Linked DNA regions of Homo sapiens: region 2 is linked to region 1. Evidence: fine-mapped expression QTL. A gene starts in region 1. The other region holds a variant in brackets. All regions are shown on one strand. Distances are from middle to middle.

Evidence for each region.
Region 2: its variant is fine-mapped to the expression of ICE2 in whole blood (INTERVAL, PIP above 0.99).

What each region holds. Positions count from the first base shown.
Region 1 is chr15:60,477,914-60,480,819 of GRCh38, forward strand. It overlaps ICE2 (interactor of little elongation complex ELL subunit 2), which reads right to left and starts at 1,229. Exons shown (of 16, transcript NM_024611.6): 1 at 1,090-1,229; 2 at 24-156. The coding sequence starts at 64. It overlaps RORA-AS1 (RORA antisense RNA 1), which reads left to right and starts at 1,265. Exons shown (of 6, transcript NR_120342.1): 1 at 1,265-1,485. RefSeq lists enhancers at 61-180, 503-1,030.
Region 2 is chr15:60,381,087-60,383,980 of GRCh38, forward strand. It overlaps ANXA2 (annexin A2), which reads right to left. Exons shown (of 13, transcript NM_004039.3): 3 at 1,256-1,355. Among named protein-coding and RNA genes, the nearest start is that of ANXA2, 15 kb to the right of the region's middle. The variant GAGGAAGGA/G (reference allele first, on the strand shown) is at 984.

The sequences.
Region 1 (2,906 bases):
ATTACAAAGTGGCTACAACTCACCAATTCAGTCCTGGTTCACTTATGACCATCTTGGAGCTCATCTTCCTAGATTTCTGCTTCACTCTAGCTCACAGTTCACAGCTGCCTGGCTGCGAAGGCTCCAAGAGGCAGGATCCCTCCAGAACTTACTCAGCTGAGTAAAAACAAAAGGCCAAGATCAAAAGCAAGTGATTGGCTAGGCCAGGTGCTATTAGGTGAGGAAGAATCTCTCCCTAAACATCTACCCTCAACAGACTGTGGCACCTAAAACAGAATACAGCAGACCCAAGGTTCTTTGTAGCAGAGCAGCAATGACGATACAGGACGAGCCCTTTTCCATTTAATCTACGCCGGGAGTGTTACTCTCAGGACACTCACTATGGAAATAAGAGCTGAAACAGAACGGTGTTCTCATTGCTTACATACTAGGCCACTTGATGGCATGGAACGGGAAGTCAACTCAGTTTTCCATTCCCTTACTGCCAAAATAAATCTTTTGTTTTCCCGACCATGCTTTGTTATGGGGCAGATTCTGGCAGGCACTTTATGACAAAAGCTACCTCGATATCAGGAATCTTAGGCCTTTCACAAAGAACCTCACATTTGAGAAGACTTGAGGTCAACTTAAGTGACATTTCACAAGATCACTTACAGACATCATCAGGACTACAAATCAGGCTTGATCTCTCATGTTCAGTACTTCTCCTGTGACCCCAGGCAGACTGATAAAGTGACCTGCGAGAACCTAATCAAATTTAGGAGTCGGTCTCTCGACACCGAACGGGCCCGACCGGCTCCCACTTAATCTACCTCTCACACTTCGACCCAGTGTGGAGCTGGGGGGGAATAGTCGAGGAAGGCAAAAGAAACGGCTGAGGGAAAGGGGACGCAAAGAGAGGGGAAACAAGGTTCCAGAAAAGCAGGTAAAAGGGCAAGCAAAGCAGGGGTAGGAGCCGCGCAGAGCCAGGAGCAAAGGGTCCTGGCCCGGCCGCCATGTTCCCTCCTCCCGCCCCTGCATGAGCACGCCCGCTGGCCCGGCAGCGCCCTCCCGTCCGCGTCTGGGCTGCAACACAGCCTTTCCGCCCACCTCATGGTCCGCGGCGGCTCTTGCCCAGGCCGCAGCCACACACCACACACGCTCCACCCCACTCCTCACATTGTCGCGCGCGCCCAAAAAAGACCATATTTAAAGGATGTGGCCGCGCCGACTCGGCCCTGCGTGATGACGTCTCAGCGACATAGTGGGCGGGGCCTTGCGTCTTGACGGCTGCTCCCCTCCTTTCCTCCCGCCACAAGCGCTCGCTGTGGTTCTGGCAGCGAAGTGCGAGACTGGGCTCGCCAGGCGGAAGTGGTTGGAGACTGCGTGTTTTCCTAGAAAGTCCTCGACCTTCGTCGGGGAGAGGAGGGGAGTGATAAATTGGAAGGCGGACAAGCGACAAGTGCGGTACTGGAAAGACCCAAACATACTTGGTTGTGACCTCAGGCAAGTTTCCTGACTTCCGTAACCCAAACTCCTCATATGTAAAATGGAGATGAAATTGTTACTGCTGCATCATACGGTTTTTTGGAAAGGATTAAATGAAACAAAGGAAGAAGCTGTGCTCTGCACAGTACCTGGCACATAGTAGGGCCTCATTAAGTGCTCCTTCACCTCCGCTCCACTCCCCATCCAGTTTTAGCTGTGAGTTCAAACACTAGTTTTGTTCTCATCCATTACGGAAAGATTTATTGACCGTAAACAGAGTACTTTGTGCTTGGTGCTGGGTACACATGGACTAAGACTGAATACTGATTTTTCCAGTGCTTTGGATCTCTGGCAATCTAAGACATTTACATTAAATACAATAGAAAGTAATAAACTACATAAGAAAGGTGTATAGATTGAGGTTAGAGGGAGAGGAATAGCTAGTGTGAGGGACAAAACGCAGTTTTGAATAGTATTGAGTACTTACATGTCAGTTGCTGCACTGAGCACCTGCCGTGTGAGCTCATTTGAAGAATGTGGGTATGTGGAATGAAGAGAAAGGGCGTTCTAGACAGACCAGCACAAGTGTCAAAAGACAAAAATTTGACACATCTAAAGATCTCAGTTGGCCTTATTGCGATTCTGGAATCAGGCAACACTTCATTCCATAAAATGGAATGAGTGTCCCAATGAGTGGAACAGAGGAGGTTGGCATTACGGACAGAAAAAAGGTCTGTAGAAAGTAGAAACAAAGAACAAAAAGCAGATTGATCATTTCAAAGTTACTTTCCTGGTAAGGTGGAGACAGACAGTACAATAGAAAGATAACTGATTGGTTAACATCAGGTTACTTCAAGTTACTCTTTGCTGTAGGGACTAAAACAGAGGAAATTCATTATCTTGCTGATTGAAAATTGAAACTGGCCTGTTACCTCTGTCTCCTGATTTCTTGGAGGGCCACATAACTCAGTTTCGGTGTGGTGAGCCTGAGTGATACCATTTTTATTTTAGTCTGGTCTCTTGGGGTCTAGTGCAGAAGTTCTAAACAATGGCCTCCTATAATTTTTTTTAATACAAGGAACTGCATAAACTTATTGCATAAACAGAATCTAGTGTGTGCTATTAGGGAAGCATGTTCTACATTTTATTTTAAGACAGAGTCTCCCAGACTGGAGTGCAGTGGTGTGATCTCAGCTCACTGCAACTTCTGCCACCTGGGTTCAAGCGATTCTCCTGCGTCAGTCTCCCTAGTAGCTGGGACTACAAGTGCATGCCACCACACTTGGCTAATTTTTGTATTTTTTTTTTAGTAGAGATGGGGTTTGCCAGGGTGATCTTTAACTCTTGACCTCAAGTGATCTGCCCACCTTGGCCTCCCTAAGTGCTGGGATTACAGGTGTGAGCCACTACCCCTGGCTGACATTTTAGACTGATTTAGA
Region 2 (2,894 bases), 97 kb before region 1:
GACAGTTCTGAGAGTGAAAGGTGCACTATTAGTAAATACGCAGGCATAAACCAGGACGTCATCCTAGTTATAGGTTCCCAGGTCAGCCTGGTTGAGGTTTCTCAGTCTTTCAACGAACCGTATGTGAACTATATAAGTGTGTCAGTAAGTTAAAACGCTGTACATAGAAGAGAAAAATGTGACATGGCTCTTCACCAGGGGCACGAACCAGCAGCAGCTCTAATTGTGCTGGGTCACGTCTGCATCCCAATCTGGCCTCATGGTGAAAGGAAGTGCTTTATCCAAGGGGGGAAAAGTGGAGAATCACAAAAGTCACCACGAGAGCTGCAATATTTTTCAGGGATTCAGGGGATGGGACAACCCCAAGGATTGCTTAATTAATATAAGCCCAGAAAGTCTGAACATCCTATTTTGTAGACCCAGAAAACAATATAATGACCATAAGAAGCTCTTGCTCAACCCTAACCAGTTAGCACTTTATTTGCTTTATTTCAAGAGGAAGGCTTTTACGCCTCCTGGTCTTCTCTTACTCATCCTAGAACTTGAGGAAATACACTCATTCTGACAGCTCTTCTAATTCCAGCTCCAGGCCTAAGGAGCAGCAGAACTTACCGGGGTTTAAAAAAAACAAAAAAAGTCTGAATTTTTCACTCTCTAGATCAATCTAAGAGCAATGCAGTAAGATTTTCCCAGCAAATGTAATTAAATTAAAGGGGACTTGGAACAAAAAATGCCCTTAGGGACCACTATGACCAACTTCTTCCTTGCAGAAGAGGGACTGAAGCCTCAAAGTGAAGAGCTGCACCCAAAAGCATACCCCTAGGACCAGATCCGGCTCCCAGACTGATTCCTTTTAACCATTACTTGGTTAAAATACTATCTCATGCTGTACATCTCTCCAAAGAGAAGAAACGGGGGGTGGGGGAGGAAAGAATGGAAGGGAGGGAGGAAAGGAAAGAAGGGAGGGGAGGGAGGGAGGGAGG[GAGGAAGGA/G]AGGAAGAGCAGGAAGAAGGGAGAAAGAGAAAGAGGGAGAGAAGGAAGAAAGGGAGAAGGGAGGGAAGGAGAAAAGGAAAAAGAAAGAAAGGAAGGAGGGAAGGAAGGAAAGGAGGCATGGGTTGAGCTAGGTCTGGATCTACTCCATTAAAGCTCGATGACAATTTCAAATCGCCAACGTATGGCGATTTGAGGGAGAATAAAGAGACAACCAAAAATGTCTCAGTAAGACCCTGACAAGAAGAGGACAAATGTATCACCTACCTTTGGTCTTGATGGCTGTTTCAATGTTCAAAGCATCCCGCTCAGCATCAAAGTTAGTATAGGCTTTGACAGACCCATATGCACTTGGGGGTGTAGAGTGCTGAGGTTAAAAGATAAACATACTCAAATGACACACATTTAAAATCCTCTTGTTGAAATAACAATGCCTAATATGTTTTCCTATTGTTTCTTTTAACAATTCAGATCATTCTCATACTAGGTAACTAGGTAGGTATTAACACACCATCACACTTCACGCAAGCAATTTCATTTTTTCTAATAAGAATTCTTCAAAGGCTCAGCTAGTTTAGAATATGCTGTCTCAATTTCAACTTCTCATCTTACTTTTAGTGAGAGATCAAAAGTAGACAATGCAAAGCTGGAGACCTGAAGCCAGCATTTACTCAGGATGGCTCTGAAGACCATTAAACTGGGCTGGCAACAATTCGAAATAAGCTGAAAATGTGGAAATGCCTCAAGGACAAGGGTGTTTAGCTAAGTTTCTGCTACAGGTACATGAATTTCTACTGGGCCAGTGTTGCTGAGCTTACAATTCAGATAAATGAGGGAAGCAGCTTCTCCCACCTCTTTACTTTGGTCACCACTGTGGCACCAAGGTGGTCTGGCCAGACGGCCCACATCCTCCTTGTGTTTCCCCCCCTCTCCTCTGTATCCTTCCCTCTGCCTTTATTAATACCATCCCTTGTGCCTACCACCCTCCACTCTTCCTAAGATTTCTTATTGCCTTCTAAACCATACCCTCTTCCTTTCCCAATGCTTTTCTTTTCTTTTCTTTCTTTTCTTAGGTAGGGTCTCACTCTGTTGCCCATGCTGGAATGCAATGGTGTGATCATGGCTCAGTGCAGCCTCAACCTCCTGGGCTCAGATGATCCTCCCACATCAGCCTCCTGAGTATCTGGGATTACAGGCACCTGCCACCACACCGGGCTAATTTTTTCATATTTTTTGTAGAGACAGGATTTCGCCGTGTTGCCCAGGCTGCTCTTGAACTCCTGGGCTCTAGTGATCCTCCCATCTTGGCCTCCCAAAGTGCTGGGATTACAGGCGTGGTGGCTCACGCCCAGCCTTTCAGTGCTTTTCAAAGCTCATTATCCTTCCTGATCTGACAGATGGGAATCTCCCATTCCAGATTGAGGTAAGGACAATGGAGTGCTTCTACGTCAGTTCTCCTTTCAAGGTATTAACTTCCCTCCTTCTTTGAAATGCTCTTATAGTTTTCCCTCTCCCTGCTACCCAGTCCCAAAGCTAAGGGCAGACAAAGAGGATGTACATTGTGGTTGTGGTTGGCTGATGGCTGGTGGAGGCAGCATCACTGCCCATCCTCATCATCAAGGCTCCCATCCTGCAACCCACCCCAACCCCCCCAGCACATAATGCCCGTATAATGTGATGACTTGGCCTTGGCGCAGTTTCTGTGAAGAGTGAAAAGGCCAAGATCCGTGAGTTACTTCTCCACCCACAGGCATCACATTATAAACCACCCAGCACCCACGCCATTCCATTTTATTAGCACTGAGACTGTATAGGTGAGCATCTAAGATGCCTTCCTATATCTAGATGACTCCCAGGAGAGGCCAGAAATCTAAGTTCAGCATTTGACAAATGTTTCCAAACGCAC